Linked DNA regions of Homo sapiens: region 2 is linked to region 1. The links come from fine-mapping of genetic effects on gene expression. A gene starts in region 1. The other region holds a variant in brackets. All regions are shown on one strand. Distances are between the middles of the regions.

Region 1 (2,933 bases):
AACAAGGAGAATTCTGACAAAATCTCTCTACCTCACCAGTGGGAAAAGAACATGGATATGACATTACAGAGGGAGCATCTTGTAGCAAAATGGATTGGAATTACACTTTAGGATGGTGTGCAGCTTGTTTATTCAAGGAAGCTGATTGTGGTTACCATTTCAGCTCATTGTTTCCCTCTGATATTCAGATTTCTTTTATCCAAAGTTTTCTGAACATTTGACATATGCATGGAGTAGTAAGAACGCACATTCCTTTGGCTAGGGATTGCATAGTGTAACATTGAAAGGCTTTAGTTATTCTTGATAAAATCAGAAGAATCATTTTGGCAATGTCCATGTTTCCTAATATGTATTTAATTGTTCTAGTTATCTCTAGATTCGTAACACTTGCTTCCAATATTGGCTGCTTTTCACCAGTGGTTATCAGTAGATGTGCTGCATAGACATGTTCAACATCACATAAAGTGTGTCATGAAAAACAATAAAGCACAAATGTTTTTCCTTTCTGCTTCATTTCAAACCTTAGAGAAATTTGTCAGAGTAGATTTATGTTAACTCTATATGTTCCTTGATATTTGAAAAAGAAAGGAAATGAGAGGTAGCTCTCCTTTTTGTACGATAGCAAGGAAAATATGGACTCTCCTACATGGTTCTTCAGCAAGTTAGAATTCTTATTTCATATCTTACACAAGTTTTAAATCTATCCAGAGTTTGTTTTTAATCAACAGCCTTTACCCCCTTGTGATTGTCAGACTCGCATCTACCTTTGTTTTCTGGTAAAAATAATAATAATAATAATCTTTCAGTTCTGATGTGAACTGCAATAACACCTAACAATAATCTTGAGCACACAGACATTATACATTCTACTCTGGAAAGGATTGCAGAATATCTCTTAAAACTCAACAAAAGAATTTTTCTTAAAAACCCTCTAAGATACAAAGGAATAAAACTGAGACTTAAACATGCAGTGAGTCAATTGTTCATATGATTAAAAATAAGTACCTTCTTTATAATGAAAAGGAAAAGTAGCTCAATGTGTTCCTTAAATATAACTAACCAAAACAAATCTTAGCTGGCAATTTGAAGTTGCCGATGCTTCCTGGAAAGAGTTCAGACTCTCAGGTTGATGCAGTGTTCCCTCCCACAACTCTGACATGTATATAAATTCTGAGCTCTCCAAAGCCCACTGCCAGTTCTCTTCGGGGACTAACTGCAACGGAGAGACTCAAGATGATTCCCTTTTTACCCATGTTTTCTCTACTATTGCTGCTTATTGTTAACCCTATAAACGCCAACAATCATTATGACAAGATCTTGGCTCATAGTCGTATCAGGGGTCGGGACCAAGGGTAAGTGAGTGGTTTGGTTTTATAAACCATTTTTCTTTTTCCTCAGCTTGTTAGATGTTCAAGTATGCATAAAGTTTCTCATATATGCCTCAGGGTTTTTTTTCCTAATTATTATAAAGTAATAGGAAAAAAAGGAAAATGTGAGTATTCTGTGATTTATCTATGCACTTTTAAGCTTTAAGACTTAATTGCTCTCTAAATACCTTGAATATAATTGCTTTCTTATGAAATGTTATATAATTCTAATCTAATTAACACAATTTAGCTGGGCATTCTTTTATAATTCCATTTATTTATGTTTTTATTTTCTTCCAAAAATCTGAAATTGAGTTTTCAAAATTAAAAAATCTATTGTTAGGAACTATCATATGTATGCAAACAGCATTGAAATATCTCACATGATGTTAGAGAAAATTTTATTTAAATTACATATGAAGGTTAAATACTGGGTAATGTAACTAGTTCTCTGAATTCTTTGAAGCATTTAAGTTACTTTTAAACTCTGAATTCTGTAAAATTTGCAAAGGTAATTTATATTTTATAGAACTAATGCAACTACAACTAAGCATTTTTAAAATTACACATAATTTTGTAACTTATCCAACCATTTATAATTTTTTAAGCGGATCTTGGCACTTCTTCCTATGCCTCACAGGAATTTTCATAATGTTCACAAGCTTCTTTGACTTACAGTGAAAAAAGACTTCTGTCCCTTTAAGAGGGGAAGGGGAACCTTAAAATTGTGACAGAGGATGTTCTGATCTGTTACTTCCATTCAAAAAGATAAATTCTCCTTTGTGCAACCATATTGTTTCAAAGTTAATTTTAGCACATTTACTTCTGTGATTACTTACCTAGAAAATTACAGAGTATAGTGTCTGTGTACATAATAAACCTTGTCTCTTTTGCTCTCTGACCTCTCATTGTTCCAGAGAGCCCTGAAGTTATGGCCATCCTCCAAATGAGCACATGCTTGGTTTAAAAAGGGTCAGTAGATTATCTACCATTAAAAGTAATAAGGCACATAGAAATAAAATTACGTTCATACTGTTTGAATAGTCCTAGTTGGTTAACTTTTTGAAAAGCTTGTATTTTACTCTCAGAAATGTATAATTTTTCTCTCTCTCCCTGCCACCTCCTGTAGACTTTCGGTTTTTCAACAATTCAGTAGGATTGTGTCAATAATTAGATTTGTGCAAGGCTAGAATCATGTCTTTGGATATCAAATCCACATCTCAACATTTTCTTCTATCAACCAATCTTTAGATACGAAAAACTAGTCATTATTAGGACATTAACTTTTTTCCTTTCCCTCTATCCTCCAGCCCAAATGTCTGTGCCCTTCAACAGATTTTGGGCACCAAAAAGAAATACTTCAGCACTTGTAAGAACTGGTATAAAAAGTCCATCTGTGGACAGAAAACGTAAGTCTCTTTTTTTTTTCATAATATGTCAGTTCCAAAAACAACATCATGATGTATATGCCTTCCCCTGGGTGTACACACCATTCTTCTTGAAAATACTGACCAAAATTGTGAGAGTTATTTAAAGAAAAGAAAGGAATACATACGTGAATAAAGA
Region 2 (2,933 bases), 100 kb after region 1:
GACTAAAATTAAAAACAAACAAACAAAAAACAGTGAAACACCAAACTCTGGCAAGATGGCAGAAAACTGGATTTATCATACATTGCTGGTAGGATATAGAATTGTAAAGCTGCTCTGGAAACTCATTTGGTGGTTGCTTTAAAAACTTAGTATGCAACTATCATATGTTCAGAAAATTGCCATTCTGATTATTTATCCCAAAGAAATGAAAATTTATATTCACACAAAAACCTGTTCATAAATGTTCATTGCAACTTTGCTGACAATAGTGAAAAACTATAAATAATCTAATCCTTCAACAGAGAATGTTTAAACAATTTTAGGACATCCGTGCCATAGAACACTACACAGCAATAAAAAGAAACTGTTGATACGTGCAACACTTTGAATGGATCTCCAGGGAATATGCTGGGTGAAATAGAAAATCACAAATGGTTACAATTTGCCATGGTTATCATTGGCAATATTATAGAAGTGAAGAACAAATTAGTAGTTGTCAAGGTTTAAAGATGGGGTAGACAGTGATAGAGGGAAAGGAGAAAAGTGGATGTGGTTATAAGAGGACAACATGAGGAACCCTTGTGGTGAGAAAATTATTCTGTAACTTGATAAATCTATGTCAGTATGATGGTTGTGAAGTTGTACTCTGTATATATGCTAACATTGAGGGAAACTGAGATCTGTCTGTATTTTTCTTACAACTGCATGAGAATCAACAATTATCTCAAAATTCAAAGTTTAAATAAAAGCAAGTAAACCAATTATGCTTGAATATAAAAATAAAACCATAAATTTGGAAATTTAAAGCAATTGTACTTCTAAATAACATATGCATTAAAAAAGAAACCATAGTGAAAATTAGAAAATATGTCAATAATAAGAATAATACTGGGGCCGGGCGCAGTGGCTCATGCCTGTAATCCCAGCACTTTGGGAGGCCGAGGTGGGCGGATCATGAGGTCAGGAGATCGAGACCATCCTGGCAAACATGGTGAAACCCCGTCTCTACTAAAAAAGATACAAAAAATTAGCCTGGCATGGTGGCGGGCACCTGTAGTCCCAGCTACTCGGGAGGCTGAGGCAGGAGAATGGCGTGAACCCGGGAGGCGGAGCTTGCAGTGAGCCGAGATTGTGCCACTGCACTCCAGCCTGGGCAGGCGACAGAGTGAGACTCCGTTAAAAAAGAAAAAGAATAATACTAATTATCAATACTTGGCATGTAAATAGAGATATAATTAAAGTGCAAATTATAATCTTAAACTCTTATGTACTAATAAATTCTGGAGATCTTATGCACAACAGGGTGACTATAATTATTAATAATGTATTTCATTCTTGAAATTTTCTAGAAGAGTAGCTTGTAAATATTCTCGTCACACACATGCACAGCAACTATGTGAAGTGATGGATATGTTAACTAGTGTGATTGTAGTAATTATTTCACCATATATACATATTTCAAAACATCATGTACACTTTAAATATATACAATTTTTATTTGCCAATTATACCTCAATAAACCTGAAAAAAAATATTACGTTACTAAAGAAAAAAAGGCAGAAAAATAAGAGCTGATCTTCCACTCTATGGTTGTTTTCTTTTTTTTTCCCGGACATAGTCTTACTCTGTTGCCCCCAAGCTGGAGTGCAGTGGTGCAATCTTGGCTCACCGCAACCTCCACCTCCTGAGTTCAAGTGATTCTCCTGCCTCAGCCTCCAAGTAGCTGGGATTACAGGTGTGCACCACTGTGCCCAGCCAAT[G/T]TTTGTATTTTTTTATTTTTTTTTAGTAGAGACGGGGTTTCACCGTGTTGGCCAGGCTGGTCTTGAACTCCACTGTAAGATTTTTAATACTGAATAACCTATAAGAAGATAATTACAATAATAGCAGAGGTTAATAAAATATAAAACAAAATAAAAATAAATAGAAGTCTATTTTTAATACCAATTAAAAATGGATAAATTTCTTAAATGACTTGTCAAAACTTAAAGACCAAAGTAATAATTAATAATAAAGATAATGAAAACGGCATGCTCAAAGATACGTAGATAAAACCACAAGCAATAGCTATGAACAATAGTTTACCAATACATTTGAAGTCTTAGATGAAATGATGAATTTTATAGAAAAAGGTAACTATCTAATTTGATGTCTAGAAATATAACAATTGTATAATTTGAATCACATGGTAAAAATTCTATCTTCATAACATCCCCACCCTCGAACTGATGCAGAGACCTGGAATACCACTGTGGTCTCTCTAGTTACAAATGGACTTAAGAAGATTACAGCCTTATCCTGAATCCATCTCATAGCAGCTCCAGTGTGGTTATTTCCCCAGTCCCAGGGTCCAACATCTGATTGTCCACTTTGTGTTTATTGGAATAATCACACTTAGTAACTAACAGAATGCCCATATGAAATAATCAGAATAAAAATGCTGTACTGTGGCAAAGGCAATAAACCTCTAATGCCTTTCCTTAGGGTTATATGGATGCTCCTGCTTTCTATTACAATATAGTCTAGAAGAACTTTGGTCATCACAATACCGCACAGAGCATTAAATGACCATTACATCAAAGACATTTTACTAATTGATCCTAGTGTGCAAGAAATAACAGGAATCTTAGGTACTTTATTGAGTACAATCACACAGGCTAGAGAGGGAGATAAACTCTGTGAAAGTTCGAGGGCTGCTACATCTGAGGTTTCTGGGAGTCTAGCAGTCTGAAAGGAGGTTGGACTATCTACTCCAACATGAAAGATAAGTTGCCACACCTTGAGTCACGCATCCTGAAGAAAATGGTACAATGCTTGGTAGACCTCTTATGATATGGGAGGCAAGACATTCATTTTAGAGTGTGCGGTTCCAATCCATTTTCTCGGTACCCCATGAGGCTTCCAGACTTCAGTGGGGTCTGTGAGGGTGGGTAGGG

Which allele goes with the higher level. Positions count from the first base shown, and alleles are read on the strand shown. Sizes are in standard deviations (SD) of each study's normalised expression.
For the expression in aorta of the gene that starts at base 1,192 in region 1, allele T in region 2 goes with a lower level than allele G (small effect, 0.32 SD a copy in GTEx).

The links. PIP is the estimated chance that this variant, and not a neighbour inherited with it, causes the effect.
Region 2: its variant is the best candidate, but not a certain one, in a credible set for the expression of POSTN in aorta (GTEx, PIP 0.55).

Annotation. Positions count from the first base shown.
Region 1 is chr13:37,597,027-37,599,959 of GRCh38, reverse strand. It overlaps POSTN (periostin), which reads left to right and starts at 1,192. Exons shown (of 23, transcript NM_006475.3): 1 at 1,192-1,352; 2 at 2,678-2,776. The coding sequence starts at 1,234.
Region 2 is chr13:37,496,547-37,499,479 of GRCh38, reverse strand. No RefSeq gene overlaps it. Among named protein-coding and RNA genes, the nearest start is that of LINC01048, 13 kb to the right of the region's middle. The variant G/T (reference allele first, on the strand shown) is at 1,761.